Regions from separate parts of the Homo sapiens genome. Here region 2 is linked to region 1. Evidence: fine-mapped expression QTL. Tissue or cell type: stomach. Region 1 holds a variant in brackets; the other region holds the start of a gene. All regions are shown on one strand. Distances are from middle to middle.

Region 1 (8,185 bases):
GATATTAAATTTTCATTCACCACATAAGAAAGGGAGGTGCAGAAAAAAAAAAAGACCTTTTAACTTATTTCTAAGGAAATGTATTTCCTAGTATCAAACCTAGAAATAAGGGGAGAAATTGATTACATGATTGGTGTTATATTCAAATATGACTGCACTGACTCTGCAATACATCATATAGTTTCTGTATACCTAAGATACCTTGCATGGGCCAGGTACTGTGGCTCACGCCTGTAATCCCAGCACTTTGGGAGGCTGAGGCAGGTGGATTACAAGGTCAGGACTTTGAGACCAGCCTCGCCAACGTGGTGAAACCGCGTATCTACTAAAAATACAAAAACTAGCCAGGCGTGGTGGCGCGTGCCTGTAATCCCAGCTACCAGGGAGACTGAGGCAGGAGAATTACTGGACCCCAGGAGGTGGAGACTGCAGTAAGCCGAGATTGTGCCACTGAACTACATACAGTCTGGGAGACAGAGCGAGACTCCATCTCAAAAAATAAATAAATACATAAATAAATAAATAAATAAATAAATAAAATCAGATGGGCATGATGGTGTGTGCCTGTAGTCCCAGCTACTTCGGAGGCTGAGGTGGGAGAATCACTTGAGCTTGGGAGACCAAGGCTGCAGTGAGCTATGATAGCACCACTGCACTCTAGTCTGGGCAACAGAGTGAGACCTTGTCTCAAAAAATAAAATAAAAATAAATAAAAGACTGGGCACAGTGGCTTATGTCTGTAAACTCATCACTTTGGGAGGCCAAGGCAGGTGTATCACTTGAGCTCAGGAGTTCAAGACCAACCTGGGCAATGTGGTGAAACACTGTCTCTGCAAAAACTACAAAAATTTGCTGGGCATGATGGCATGAACCTGTAGTTTTAGCTACTCAGGAGGCTGAGGTGGGAGGACTGCTTGAGCTCACAAGGCAGAGATTGCAGTGAGCCATGATCACACCACTGCACTCCAGCCTGAGCAACAGATCAAGACCCTGTCTCAAAAAATAAAGGTAAAAATACAAATACAAATAAATAAATAAATAAGATTCCTAACATAGGCATATAGATTCAGGGAAGTTATATATGAAAAATAAAATACGACAGGGTATGGTGGCTTGTGTTTGTAATCCCAACATTTTGGGAGGTGGAGATGGGAGGATCACATGAGGCCAGGAGTTGAAGAACAGCCTCAGAAACATAGCAAGACCCCATCTCTACAAAAGTGAAAATAAGAATTAGCTGGGCATGGTGATGCACCCATAGTCTCAGCTACTCAAGAGACTGAGACAGGAGGAGTTCAAGGCTTAGTCTAAGCGTTCAAGGTTACAGTGAGCTATGATTGTGCTATTGCATTCCAGCTTAGGTGAAGGAGCGAGACCCTTTCTCAACCAATCAATCAAAAAAGCAGGGAAATGATGTTTAGATCAGACATGAATTTTCGATAAAGTTAAAACCCGGCACTCTTTCTGGATTGCTTTTTAGAAACTCTCTTGGTAATTTAAAAGGTAATAACAACAGAGAGGGAGAGAGAGAGAGAATAGTTTAATAAAGCTCTATCAGCCAGGCGCGGTGGCTCACGCCTGTAATCCCAGCACTTTGGGAGGCCGAGGCAGGTGGATCACGAGGTCAGGAGATCAAGACCATCCTGGCTAATGTGGTGAAACCCCATCTCTACTAAAAATACAAAAAATTAGCCGGGCGTGGTGGCGGGCGCCTGTAGTCCCAGCTACTTGGGAGGCTGAGGCAGGAGAATGGCGTGAACTCGGGAGGCAGAGCTTGTAGTGAGCCGAGATTGCGCCACTGCACTCCAGCCTGGGTGACAGAGCAAGACTCTGTCTCAAAAAAAAAAAAAAAAAAAAAAAAAAAAAAAACCCCTAAAGCTCTATCACTCAGCTTCAAAAAAAAAAAAAGAATATGTGAATACTGACAGAGTTAAACCTTGGAAAGTTTCTTTTCTAAAAAGGAAACTTTAAAAGTTTTTATTTTTAATTGACAAATAATAATTGTTTATAGGCTGGGCACGATGGCTCACACCTCTCAGCACTTCAGGAGGCCGAGGTGGGAGGATCACCTGAGGTCAGGAGTTCAAGACATGCCTGGCCAACATGGCGAAACGCCATCTCTACTAAAAAAAAATACAAAAATCAGCTGGGCATGGTGCCAGGTGCCTGTAATACCATCTGCTCGGGAGGCTGAAGCAGGGATAATTGCTTGAACCTGAGAGGCGGAGGTTGCAGTGAGCCAAGATCGCGCCACTGCACTGCAGCCTGGGCAACAGAGAGAGACTCTGTCTCAAAAAATAATAATAATTGTTCATATTTATGAGGCTTATAGGGGTGTGTGTGTGTGTGTGTGTGTGTGTGTGTGTGTGTATGTGTGTGTGTGTTTCCAGAGGCACGGTCTCCCTGTGTTGCCCTATGTTGCCCAGACTAGTCTCAAACTCCTGGGCTAAAGCATTCCTCCTGCCTTGGCTTCCCTAAGTGCTGGGATTACAGGTATGAGCCACCACACCTGGCTGTAGATGTTTTGATGTATGTTTACACTGTGGAATGATTAAATCAAGGTAATTAACATATCAATCACCTCACATACTTATTCATTTTTTTTGTGATGAGAACATTTAAAATCTACTGTTTTAGCAATTTTGAAATATACAATACACTATTATTAACTATAGTCACCATACTGTGCAGTAATAGATCTCCAGAATTATTAATTCAGTCTAACTGAAACTTGGTACCCTTTGACCAATACCTCCCCGCTCCTCATCTTCCTCTTCACTCCTGTAACACCATTCTACTCTCTCCTGTAAGTTTGATTTTCTTAGATTCCACATATAAGTGACAGCATTCGGTATTTGTCCCTCTGTGACTGGCTTATTTCACTTAGCATAAGGTCCTCCAGGTTCATCCATGTTGCCACAAATGACAGAATTTCAAAAAGAAAACTTTCTGAGGGAAAATAAAGTATTGACAGAAGTTAGTGAGGACACACCAAAAAGTAGCCATCTCACCCACCCATTTGGGAAAAAGATTATCTGTGAAATTCTCAAAAATGTGATTTATTGCAACTCAAGAAAAATCACCATGGCTGGGCACGGTGGCTCATGCCTGTAATCCCAGCACTTTGGGAGGCCAAGGCAGGCAGATCACTTGAGTTCAAGACCAGCCTGGCCAACATGGGGAAACCCTATCTCTACTAAAAATACAAAAATTAGCTGGACATGGTGGTGGGTGCTTGTAATCCCAGCTACTCGGGAGGCTGAGGCATGAGAATCACTTGAACCCGGGGCGGAGGTTGCAGTGAACCGAGATCGCGCCACTACACTCTAGCCTGGGCGACAGAGCAAGACTCTGTCTCTACAAAAAAAGAAAAAAAAAAAAGAGGCAGTCACACTCTCTCTTGCCCACACATCTCAAAATCATCTTGAGTTAGCTCAAGTTGGTTTGCTCCTGATATGACGAAAATGAATTACAGGATACCAAACAAGGAAGTTGTAAAGATACAGTTATCGGAACAATGACAAGTCAAACACTTTGCTCCTTGGGAAGTTAAGATTCTATTTCTGGTTTTTGTGGATTTAATCACATCATTGAAGACTTAAGGGGAACCAAAAGTTGAAATTATTTAACCATCTAAGTTTTCTTCTTAAAGTCAGCCCTTAAATGGTTTAAAAACTGACATCTGTATCTCTCATGATGTGGTTAGTCAGAGGATAAAGTGATATATCTATACTAGCCCCCATTAAACCATAACCACACTGTACTAGACAAATTATACCACTCTAGGTCTTCCTTTTTAAATTTTGTGTGTGTGTGCATCCTGATGGTAGAACTATGCATCGTGTACTTGGTTTTTTTGTCACAGATATATCTTCATGTTAGCATTGAGGATAGCTCTCACAGGCTCTAGGAAGATGACTTCAATTCAAAGCTCGCCTCTGCCATGCATTATTCAACTGATCTTAGGCAAGTATTAACCTCTCTAGGCCTCCATTTTACCATTGATAAATGGGGAAAATAATAGTGCCTATCTTACAAGGCTTTTATTATAATTGTATGGTTAAAATATGGAATATTTTCTTAAACATGTGTCACAGGAAAATTTCAATAAATGTTTGTTGTTATGAAAAACAAAATGCATACTGTCATAAAAATATAAAGAAATGTCACCGGGAGCCTCCTCTTTGAATACCAGAGGTTTAAATGGTAGAATTGGTAAACACATACAAATATTTTCACA[C/T]TCTTAACAAAATCATCACAGTAGCTGAAGTAGCTCTCCCAACACATCAAACCACATCAATGACAACATGGAGCAATGCAAAGCCCAAGGCCTCCTCTGAATCACACACTCTCATAATCATGCAAATGTGCACCCCATTTCTCCCAAGTATCAGAACTCACTTTCAAATGCTTTTTTTTTTTTTTTTTGAGATAGAGTCTCGCTCTGTCAAGTGCAGTGGCACAATCTCGGCTCACTGCAACCTCCACCTTCCAGGTTCAAACAATTCTCCTGCCTCAGCTTCCTGAGTAGCTGGGATTACAGGCATGTGACGCCACACCTGGCTAATTTTGTATTTTTAGTAGAAATGAGGCTTCACCATGTTGGCCAGACTGGTCTTGAACTCCTGGTCTCATGATCCACCTCAGTTTCCCAAAGTGCTGGGATTACAGGTGTGAGCCACCACACCTGGCCCTGATTTCCAAATGTTAAAGGTTTCTAAAAAGCAAACTAACCCACTTATTGTAAACTCATCAAGCATTTAATGGCTATAATGGCATAAGTGTGCCTCTTGCATTTCTGCTGCTCTCTTCAGACACATACACTCCACCACTCCTCATAACTGAAAAAGCTCCAGATTATACCTGAAAATTGGCGACAATGCCCATTCCGAAACATCCCACCAATCCAAGCACTAAAGACACCAAGTTAAAAACAGGAGTGCTGAAATAGCAGGTTTGATTTTGCTTCTGTACTATTTTGTATCTTGTATACATCGTGGCTGCACCTGAAAAAGAAGAGAACTTTGATGAATGTTCATAATTTGATGTCTTTAGGATGAAAAACAGGAGCAGCTTTGTATCACTTTTTAAAAATGTACTGATTGCAAGTCTCCCCACTTTCCCACCCCTGTCCCTCCTGACTCCATCTTACTCTCTCCCCAGCATGTACAGACACACACACACACACACACACACACACACACACACACACACACACCCCTTGGCTGTTGTCCTTTTCATGTAAATGCTATTATAGTACATGTATTACTCTGTGACTTGCTTTTTCCATTTAACAGTGTACCATGGAGATCTTTTCAAGCAAGTACAAACAGATCTACTTCATTGTTTTCAGGGATCTTATCATGGTCTGTGGTATGAGATACTATATTTATTCCTCATTCTCCTAAGAATGAATTTCTACATTGTTTCCATGTTTTTCCTGCTACAAACAACACGCCATGAATATCCTTGTATATAAATCTTTGGGTTTCTGAAAGACCAGTTCCTAGAAGTAATATTACTGGGTCAAAAAACCATGCACAATTAGAAACACCTCCAAATTGCTCCAGCCCGTTGACGATTTAGACTCCCACCAGCAGAATTTGCGAGCAATTGTGTATGCCCTTGCCTTTTTAATTCTGTCAGTCTAATAAATGAAAATTCAACCTGTTGGGTTAGTTTGCATTTCTCTGATCATTAGCAAGATTTAGCAACTTTCAGTATATCTACTGGTCATTTGCATTTCTTCTTCTGAGAAATGCATGTTTACAATTTTCTTTTTATTCTTCTCTTGGGCTTGTCGATATCTAATTTGTAGTTACTTTTTACACATTATGTCCATTAGTCTATTATCTGCTATAAATATTACAAATTTTCTTCTGCTCTGCTATTTGTCTTTTAACATTGTATCTTGTATCTTACATCATTTGAAAGTTTTAATTTTTAATCTACTCATATCTATCAATTCTTCTGCGTTTTGTGTTTCTATTCCAAGGTTTAAAAAATATTCTCCTGTAATTTAATTATTGCATAGTTTTGCTTTTCATGTCTATTAAATTGCAATTGGTTTTTGTGTATGATGTGAGGAGGATAGTAAAGGTATGTTTTTCCAAATAGCTAGTCAATTAACCAAATACCATTTGTTGTAATTTGGCAATAAAATGTAGCCTCCATGAGAGCAGGGCTCTTGTCTGTTTTGTTGGCTGTTGTAAACTCAACACTAAGTCATAAACAAGCACAAACCCTATCATATAGTACATACTTAGTAAATGTTGAATAAATAAATAGCTACCATAATTTTAGATACATATTCCCTTTAACTCAGCAAATTTATCTTATAGAAAAACTCACACAAATATGCAAAGATATATTTAAAAGATGTTCACTTCAACATTAGAATTACAAAATACCAGAAATAGCCTAAATGTTGGACAATAGGGAACTGATTAAATAAATGATAATACATCCTTGTGAAAGATATCATGCATGTGTGGAAAGGATAAAGTAGATGTGTATATATTTACATAGTATGACGGCCATAATCTATTCCTGAATTTTTAAAAAGCAGGCTAAAAACTAATAACTTATCATAAATCTTTTTTTTTTTTTTTTTTTGTGGAGACAGGGACTTGCTCTGTCACCTGGGTGGGAGTGCAGCGGCACAGTCATGGTTCACTGCAGCCTTGACCTCCTGGGCTCAGGCAATTCTTCCACTTTATCCTTCCAAGTAGCTGGAACTACAGGCACACATCACCACACCCAGCTAACTTCTTTTTTCTTTCTTTCTTTCTTTTTTAACTTTTTGTAGAGATGAGATCTCACTACATTGCCCAGGCTGGTCTTGAACTCCTGGGCTCAACAGATCCTCCTGCTTCAGCCTCCCAAAATGCTAGAATTACAGGCATGAGCTCACATAGACTATTTCAAATGAATATATTTGTCAGTTTCTGCTTTATTCAGAAGCAAAAGCCGTATTTATCACTTGCTGTGATAAAATAATCTCTCTGTTTTCCAAGTCTGGATTCTTGGCAAGGATGGTGTAAGAGGGCACTGGGATTGACTGACTCCATATTGCTACTTCCCCTTGCTCACCTCCAAAACTTTAGGAGGACTACAAATGGTGATGCGGTGAAACTTTCCTGCTACCAAGTAGGATGAACAAATTCCAAAATGCCAAGTCACTAAGTAGGGTCAGCATCACTGTCCCTTCTCACACTGTACCAGTAGAGAGGAACAGAAAGCGTTGGTTACAAGATAGGCCCTTGGCAAACACTTGATTGTTTGGGGGGAGATTATAGAAGGACTAAGAGAAAATGCCCCACATCTGATATCTATATACTTGAATCACCTTATAGAAGACTGAGCTTTACATTAATTATACAATAGTTGTAATTAATATGCATTACATTAATTGGCTTATGACAAGGTTGCACCCTATCATCTGCATCTTAGGTACATCTGAGGAACTGAAAAGAAAAATCATACTATTCCTTGCTCCACCTGTCCCCTTTCTCTAACAGGTAAGATAATGCCTTTGTCAATGGTCCTCAAACTTTAGTGAGAAACCAAGTCCCCTAGAGTGCTTGTTTACAACACATCTTCAGGAACCCACACTCCCAAAGGTTCTGGTTGAGTAGCATGGCCCAGGAACCTGCATTTTACGAGAACTCCAGGTGACTTTTCATCAGCTTGCCTTCAGAATACACTTTGAGAAACTTAGCTTACGCATTGGGTGTCTTTGGCTTACATAAGTGTCTTGACCATAAATCAACACTTTTAAAAACTAAATTGCACTTAAAATCCGTTCCAGAAGTTTGGTATTTAAAACCACCTACAGCAAATCCTGTTACAAATTACTAATTAAAGTATAGTTCTCTAATAAAGCCATAATTTTTTATATCTTTTAACTTCAGTTTCTCAAAATAGGACAAAAATCTAGCTGCAAAGATTGTGCTTTTAAAAAAATTATACACAAGGCCGTGTGCAGTGGCTCACACCTATAAGTTCAGCACTTTGAGAGGCCAAGGCAGGTGGATCACTGAAGCCCGGGAGCTCAAGGCCAGCCTGGCAACATGGTGAAACCCCATCTCTACAAAAAACTACAAAAAATTAGCTGGGCGTGGTGGTGTGCACCTGTAGTACCAGCTACTCCGGAGGCTGAGGTGGGAGGACTGCTTGAGCCTGG
Region 2 (8,185 bases), 25 kb after region 1:
CTCCTGGCAACAAGGGGGCATGCCTTTTTCTCCTGTAATTCTGCTTTTCCTGAAGGCTTCCTTGTTAAATTTTAAACCCCTTCCTTGTAGGGTCTGTGATTTGAGCATCTCATAAGTGGTTCACCTTGTCAGCTTATTTTCCCATTTCTGAATGTCTCCCATTTCAAGTTCACCTTAGAGTGATATTAATCACAACTACATCAGACACCTCTATGAACATTCAAAACCTGCCTTTGACAGCCTGGCCAATGAATATCACGTATTATCTGTCCTCAACCTTCAGATCTGGGACAAACATGACTACTGTTTTCTCAATAAGAAGCACTGCAGGCTGGGTGTGGTGGCTCACGCCTGTAATCCCAACACTTTAGGAGGCTGAGGCAGGTGGATCATCTGAGGTCAGGAGCTTGAGACCAGCCTGGCCAACATGGTGAAACCCCGTCTCTACTAAAAATACAAAAATATTAGCTGGGCGTGGTGGCAGGTGCCTGTAATCCCAGCTACTTGGGAGGCTGAGTCAGGAGAATTGCTTGAACCAGGAGGTGGAGGTTGCACTGAGCCGAGATTGCACCATTGCACTCCAGCCTGGGCGACAGAGCAAGACTCTGTCTTAAAAAAAAAAAAAAAAAAAAAAAAAAAGGAAGCATTGCAGGACACAGCAAGATGCCATCTCTACAAATACAAAAAAAAATTAAAAATTAGCTGGGCATGGTTGTGCATGCCTATCTACAGTCCCCAGCTATTCAGGAGGCTGAGGTGGGAGGATCAATGGAGCCCAGGAGGTCGAGGCTGCAGTGAGCTGTGATCCCACCACCACACCACAGACTGGGCAACAGAGCGAGACTTTGTCTGAAAAAACAAACAAACAAACAAACAAAAGAAGCAGCACTGCAGGTAGAGCAGCTCTTTACCTTTTTTTTTTTTTTCTGAGATGGAGTCTCGCTCTGTCACCAGGCTGGAGTGCAGTAGCTCTGTCTCGGCTCACTGCAACCTCTGCCTCCCGGGTTCAAGCAATTCTGCCTCAGCCTCCCGAGTAGCTGGGACTACAGGCGTGCACCACCACGCCCAGCTAATTTCTGTATTTTTAGTAGAGATGAGGTTTTACCATGTTGGCCAGGATGGTCTCGATCTCTTGACCTCATGATCCGCCAGCCTCGGCCTCCCAAAGTGCTGGGATTACAGGCGTGAGCCACTGTGCCCAGCTGAGCAGGTCTTTACTTTTACACAAGTCTAGAAGGATCTATCCTGCTTCAGAAGCAAGATGATGGCACTTGGGCCTGAGATGTGCCATGAGAAACCAAGCCTAGGTTTCTTCCAAGCATAATACCAGATGGGAGGGCCAGGCGTGGTGGCTCACGCCTGTAATCCCAACACTCTGGGAGGCCAAAGCAAGGGGAATGCTTGAGCCCAGGAGTTTAAGACCAGCCTGGGCAATATAGTGAGACTTTGTCTCTACTGAAAATAAAAAATAATAACAATAAATGGAAAAAACCGAAAGGCCAGATGAGAACATCTTGATATACATAACATCTCCTTTCATAGGCAAAAACCACCATCATTACTGCAAATTTGCACTATTCTACCTATTGCTGTATTCCCTGCATCTTGTAAATGCTGGTTCCCTGGGAACACTGGCTCACACCTGTAATCCTAGCATTTTGGGAGGCCAAGGCAAGAGGATCACTTGAGGTCAGGAATTTGAGACCAGCCTGACCAACATAGTGAAACCCTGTCTCTACTAAAAATACAAAAAAATTAAGCCAGGTGTGGTGGTGCACGCCTGTAATCTCAGCTACTTGGGAGGCTGAGGCAGGAGAATCGCTTGAACCCGGGAGGCAGAGGTTGCGGTGAGCCGAGATTGTGTCACTGCACTCCAGCCTGGGCGACAGAACAAGACTCTGTCTCAAAAAAATAAAAAAAATTTTAAAAAATGCTAGTCCCCTCTTGCTCGATCTTTGTTTCCCCTTTCTCCACACTCCTCACCCCCACCCCCAAAAAAAGGAAAAAAACAAACAAACAAACAAAAAAACACAGAACATTGCTCACCAGACAGAATGGCTGCAGGGAAGAAGACGCCCTACATTTTCTATCATAGCAGTAACAAACCTTGGGTGTCACCAACCTTATCATCCGTTCACCAACCAATGCCTGTCCAGAGGGGTCACACTACTTAGATAAGGATGGATGGTTCTAACGTTTAAAGAATCCTGCCACTATGAGAAAGGCACTGAGCTGGAACCCACATAGGAGGATCAGACCACTGTCCCTGGCACTGAAGTGCCCCTCAGGAAGGTAGAGGCCAAAGCACAGGAAAAGTGAATGGGTAAAATAACACAAAAGATGTCACAAGTTGTTGACAAGTTGAGGACTTTGGGGTCACAGTGCCCAGAGGTGTCTGGTGCAGCTCCAGAGAATTTAAGCCAGACTCCCAGAGACCTGGGGGCAGCACAGTGTTGCTTTCTGCATGGCCGGGTGTGAATTCTGCTCCTACCATTAACTAGTGTGACATCAGTGTCACGTTGATGATATTTCATCAACTTTACACCACCGCTCGCTTGCGGGAATAATAAGCCCAAACATCCACTTCAAGGGATGTTGGGATGCAGAAGTGAAAATAGTGGCTGTTTAGCATATACCTGGATCTACCTCTTGTATAATATATGTCATCTATCAGAACCCATCTTGTTTCAATATCGCCTAAGAACGTCCTGCTGAGATTCTGTCCCATACCCAGAATGAAAGCTCTACCATCTATCCTGAACCTCTCCTTGCTGCCACCCTGTTCCATGCTCCGGGTACAGGCAGAAGTGCTCAGCGCCGCACCCGCTGCCTCCCTAAACATCCCAGGCTATCGGGAGCACCTCTCCTCCTGCTCCCACCTCTGCCTGACCACACGACGCCCCAAGCTGGGTCCGGACGCCTTCCCTCCCCGTCGGCAGCGCTCCCTGTGGTCCCTGTGCCTGCTCCTGGGGCCCTGACGCCCACCCTGCCACTCACCTGATATACGGGAGGAAGGGGTTGACGTGCCCGGAGAGCACGGCGACCACGTAGGAGATAATGAAGGCGGCTGACGACCAGGTCACCAAGAGGAAGGGGACGAAAGCCATTCCCCTCAGGAAGCACAGCATCGCGCCGCCGCCGCCGCCGACGGAGTGCTGCGCCCAGCGGGGCCGGGCGCCGGGTTGCTCCGGGCTGCCTGGAGGCGGCGGCCGGGCGCGTACACTCACGGACGGTGGGAGGGGAGGCTCCGCGACGGCCGGGGCAGGCCCAGCCCCGGAGGGAGGGGAAGCGCGAGGAGCGGAGCGAGGCTGCGGGCGGCGAGGCTGCCGGGCCAGAGTGGGTGGGGCGCGGGCTGCCCGGGCTTGTTGCGAAACGAGTGAAGTCACAAAGCGGCCCGGCAGGGTCGGAGGCGCCCGGCGAGCTCCAAGCGGACGCGACTACGGAGCCGCCGGAGGGGACGCGGGGTCGGGTTCCTTTCGCTTTTGGTTTGGACACTCGGCGGAGGCCGGGTTGGGCGCGGACGGGCGGCGTGGGGTCACTGGCGGGGACGCCCGCTCTGGCCTTCCCACTCTGGCCCTACCGCGCTGGCTCTTGCGCAACTCTGGAGAAAAGGATTTATTTCTCCCAACCCCTCCCTCCCGGGGGATTTCCGGAGTGCCGGGCCTCGCACCCCGAGGGCGCCCCCTCCGAGGTCCCGCCGCCGGCGCTTCGCAGCAGTGAGAGTGGCCACCGCGTGGTGACACCCATGCCATCCGGTCGCGCTGCTGCTGCGGGGGTCGGGCAGAAGTGTTCAATGAGGTTCGCCAGGTCACGGGGCGCAGATGTGGCTCCCACCTCAATGGTGAACACCCGAAAACCCAGACAGGGTGGGAACGGGTGGGGTGGAGAGTACGCGGGTGGGGTGCGGGGCAGGCGGGTGGGACTGCGCGCCCACGGAGCCGGGAGGCCCATTGTGCTGCTTTCCAGGAGAGCGCAACTGGAGAATATTTCCTGGAAATAAGATTTCCCAGGCCGGGCGCCGTGAATAGCCATCACTTTGGGAGGCATCCAAAAGCCATCACCCCTGGAATGCCACCACTTTGGGAGGCCGAGTTGGGAGGATCGCTTGAACCCAAGAACTAGAGATCAGCCTGGGTAACATAGCGAAACCCCTCTTCTACAAAAAAAAAAAAAAAAAATGAAAAAGAAAAAAAGCCGGTTCCAGTTACTCGGGAGACTGAGTTGGGATGATCACTTGAGCCTTGGGGGTCGAGGCTGCAGTGAGCCTTTATCACACCACTTCACTCGGCCTGGGTGACAGAGCAAGACCTTGTCTCAAAAAACAAACAAACAAAAAAAAAACAAAAAAAACTCCCCTCCAGGTTCTGGAGTAGCCCAGACTCGGAGCCTTGGCCTAAGATGATTAATAGTGACTTGATACATTTCAAGCCCTGTGAAAGGGATTTGTGTTCTGGAGGCACTTATAATATAAGCACATGATTTTGATAGTTTAGGGAGTCTGAGCCCAACATATGTGGCCAAAATTGTTGGGTCATTGGTGACCAAAGATAGGTTCCTTTCAGCCACAAACACATTTCATGGGCGCCATGCTAGGCTACAAAGATGAAATAGTAATAGTACCCTCAGGACGAGGACACTCATAGATCAAAATAACAAAATTAGGCCAGGCGTGGTGGCTCATGCCTGTAATCCTAGCACTTTGGGAGGCCAAGGTGGGTGGATCACCTGAGGTCAGGAGTTCGAGACCAGCCTGGCCAACATGGTGAAACCCCATCTCTACTAAAAATACAAAAAATTAGTCAGGCATCATGGCTCACGCCTGTAATCCCAGCTACTCAGGAGGCTGAGGCAGGAGAATCGCTTGAACCTGGGAAATGGAGGTTTTCTCAGTGAGCTGAGATCACACCACTGCATTTCAGCCTGGGTGAGAGAACGAGACTCTGTCTCAAAAATATAAATAAATAAAAACAAAATTATGTTATGTGGTTTATTAAATGGAAAGGAGAGGATTTTAAAAAGTAGAGACATGCCCAGAGCTGAGGGCCAGGGGCCTGGGCTCAGAGGAAGGACCACGGAGGTTTTCTGACAGATGACATCAGAGTTTTCAAAAGGAAGTAATTACTAACCAGGCAAAGAAAAATAAGATTAGCATTCCAGGCCCAGAAAACAACTGGAGGAAATGCATACACAGAGCTTGCTTCCCTGGGACTATGAAAGCACTTAAATAAGTGTGAGGCAGCAAATGGAGAGAGAAACAAAGAGGCAAAGTCACCAGAGTCCTGCTGAGAATCTTGGATTATTTTTGGTATTAAGGAGAAAGTAAGAACATGGGCAGACTAGTATTTCAAGAGATCACTGTGGCCGTGGAGTGAGTGCCCGCCATACAAAACAAAATAGAAAATTTAAAATAAGGCTTTTTAAAAACCACAAAAGCTGGCCAGGCATGGTAGCTCACAGTTCTGTAATCCCGGCGCTTTGGGAGGCCGAAGCCTGGACAATATAGTGAGACCCGCAACCATATCTACAAAAAATTTAAAAATTAGCTGGGTGTGGTGTTGCATAACCTGTGGTTCCAGCTACATGAGAGGCTTACGTGGGAGGCTCACTTGAGCCCGGAGTTTGAGGCTGCAGTGAGCTATGATCACACCACTGAACTCCAGCCTGGATCACAGATCGAGACTCTATTTCAAAAACAAATAAAAATTTAAAAATGGTCAGGTGCAATGTAATCCCAGCACTTTAGGAGGTTGAGGCAGGCACATGACCTGAGGTCAGGAGTTCGAGACCAGCCTGGCCAATATGATGAAGCCCTGTCTCTACTGAAAATACAAAAATTAGCTGGGCATGGTGGTGCGCGCCTGTAATCCCAGCTACTCGTGAAGCTAAGGCATGAGAATCGCTTGAACCTGGGAGGCAGAGATTGCAGTTGAGCTGAGATTGCAGCCACTGCACTCCAGCCTGGGTAATAGAGCGAGACCCTGTCTTAAAAAAAAAAAAATGGCCAGGCACAGTGGCTCACGCCTGTAATTCCAGCACTTTGAGAGGTGGAGGCCAGTGGACCATGAGGTCAGGAGTTTAAGACCAGCCTGGCCAACATGGTGAAACCCCGTCAATGCTAAAAAATACAAAAATTAGCCAGGCATGGTGGCGGGCACCTGTAATCCCAGCTACTCAGGAGGCTGAGGCAGGAGAACTGCTTGAACCCAGGAGGCAGAGGTTGCAGTGAGCAGAGACGGTGACATTGCACTCCAGCCTGGTCAACAGATAGAGACTATGTCTCTAAATAAATAAATAAATTTTAAAAATAAAAAATAAAAATCACAAAAGTTAGCAACCATGGTTTCATTGTAATCTCTACCTAGGTTTCTGTGTTCTGAAAATCACTCTATTCCTTCCCTTTTTTCCTTTCGTGCCCTACTACTGATTCATCAGACTAAAAAAAAAAACTCTCCCTAAGCAAAGAAATTATAATATCAAAGGGAATTCACCTGATCATCTTACCCTTCTGCTGCTTATGTAATTTCCTTAATTAAGCAATTCAATTGGCTAATCACTTTTAACACAGATATAAGAATTGTCTGGCCTGGCGCGGTGGCTCACACCTCTAATCCCAGCACTTTGGAAGGCCGAGGCTGGCGGATCACGAGGTCTGGAGATCAAGACCATCCTGGCTAACACGGTGAAACCGCGTCTCTACTAAAAATACAAAAACAAAATTGGCCGGGCGTGGTGGCGGGCGCATATAGTCCCAGCTACTCAGGAGGCTGAGGCAGGAAAATGGCGTGAACCCGGGAGGCGGAGCTTGCAGTGAGCCGAGATCGCGCAACTGCACTCCAGACTGGACGACAGAGCAAGACTCTGTCTCAAAAAAAAAAAAAAAAAAAAAAAAAAAAAAAAAAAAATCTGAGGCCGGGCATGGTGGCTCACGCCTGTAATCCCAGCACTTTGGGAGGCCAAGGCGGGCGGATCACCTGAGGTCAGGAGTTCGAGACCAGCCCAGCCAACATGGTGAAACCTCATCTCTACTAAAAATACAAAAATCAGCCGGGTGTAGTGGTGGGCCCCTGTAATCCCAGCTACTCGGGAGGCTGAGGCAGGAGAATCGCTTGAGCCCGGGAGGCGGAGGTTGCAGTGAGCCGAGATCATACCACTGCACTCCAGCCTGGGCAACAAAGAGCAAAACTCAGTCTCAAATAAAAAAAGAGTTGTCTGACTATAGAGCTAACAAGAATTTGTCACTTAAGATGAGTATGTATACACGCGAGCAGAGTACGAGTCTGAGGTGGAGGGAATCATGGCAAGCCAAGCGTTTAGAAAGTTTCTTCCACTCCTTGACCGAGTTTTGGTTGAAAGGCGTGCTGCTGAAACTGTAACCAAAGGAGGCATTATGCTTCCAGAAAAATCTCAAGGAAAATTATTGCAAGCAAGAGTAGTCGCTGTTGGATGGGGTTCTATGGAAAGGGTAGAGAGATTCAACCAGTTAGCGTGAAAGTTGGAGATAAAGTTCTTCTCCCAGAATATGGAGGCACCAAAGTAGTTCTAGATGACAAGGATTATTTCCTATTTAGAGATGGTGACATTCTTAGAAAGTACGTAGACTGAAATAAGTCACTATTGAAATGGCATCAACGTGAAGCTGCCCATTCTACTGAAGTTCTGAAATCTTTCATCATGTAAATAATTTCCATATTTTTCTTTTATAATAAACTAATGACATCCAGTGTCTCCAAAATTGTTTCCTTGTACTGATATAAACATTTCCAAATAAAAATATGTAAATGAGTGTAAAAAAAAGAGTATGTATACATATATATTTAAAATAAATACACTATAAATGTAAAAGTTCTGGCTTCTTTTTTACTTTTTTTTTTTTTTTAGAGAGTCTCACTGTGTCACCCATGCTGGAGTGCAGTAGTGCGATCTTGGCTCACTGCAACCTCTGCCTCCCGGGTTCAAGCAATTCTTGTTCCTCAGCCTGCCAAGTAGCTGGGACTACAGGCATGCACCACCATGCCCAGCTAATTTGTTGTTATTGTTGTTGTTGTTGTTGTTGTTTTGAGGTGGAGTCTCGCTCCCATCATGCAGGCTGGAGTGCAGTGGCACGATCTCTGCTCGCTGCAACCTCCACCTCCTGGGTCCAAGCGATTTTCCTGCCTCAGCCTCCCAAGCAGCTGTGATTACAGGC

What was found. PIP is the estimated chance that this variant, and not a neighbour inherited with it, causes the effect.
Region 2: it holds the start of DRAM1, and the variant in region 1 is fine-mapped to the expression of DRAM1 in stomach (GTEx, PIP 0.99).

Annotation. Positions count from the first base shown.
Region 1 is chr12:101,898,112-101,906,296 of GRCh38, reverse strand. DRAM1 (DNA damage regulated autophagy modulator 1) reads right to left here. Exons shown (of 7, transcript NM_018370.3): 3 at 4,864-5,006. Among named protein-coding and RNA genes, the nearest start is that of DRAM1, 25 kb to the right of the region's middle. RefSeq lists an enhancer at 6,705-6,874. The variant C/T (reference allele first, on the strand shown) is at 4,241.
Region 2 is chr12:101,872,733-101,880,917 of GRCh38, reverse strand. DRAM1 (DNA damage regulated autophagy modulator 1) reads right to left here and starts at 3,338. Exons shown (of 7, transcript NM_018370.3): 1 at 2,998-3,338. The coding sequence starts at 3,128. It also overlaps the pseudogene HSPE1P4. RefSeq lists enhancers at 2,452-2,501, 2,642-2,731, 2,370-3,151, 3,312-3,361, 3,152-3,934 and silencers at 2,952-3,291, 3,542-3,701.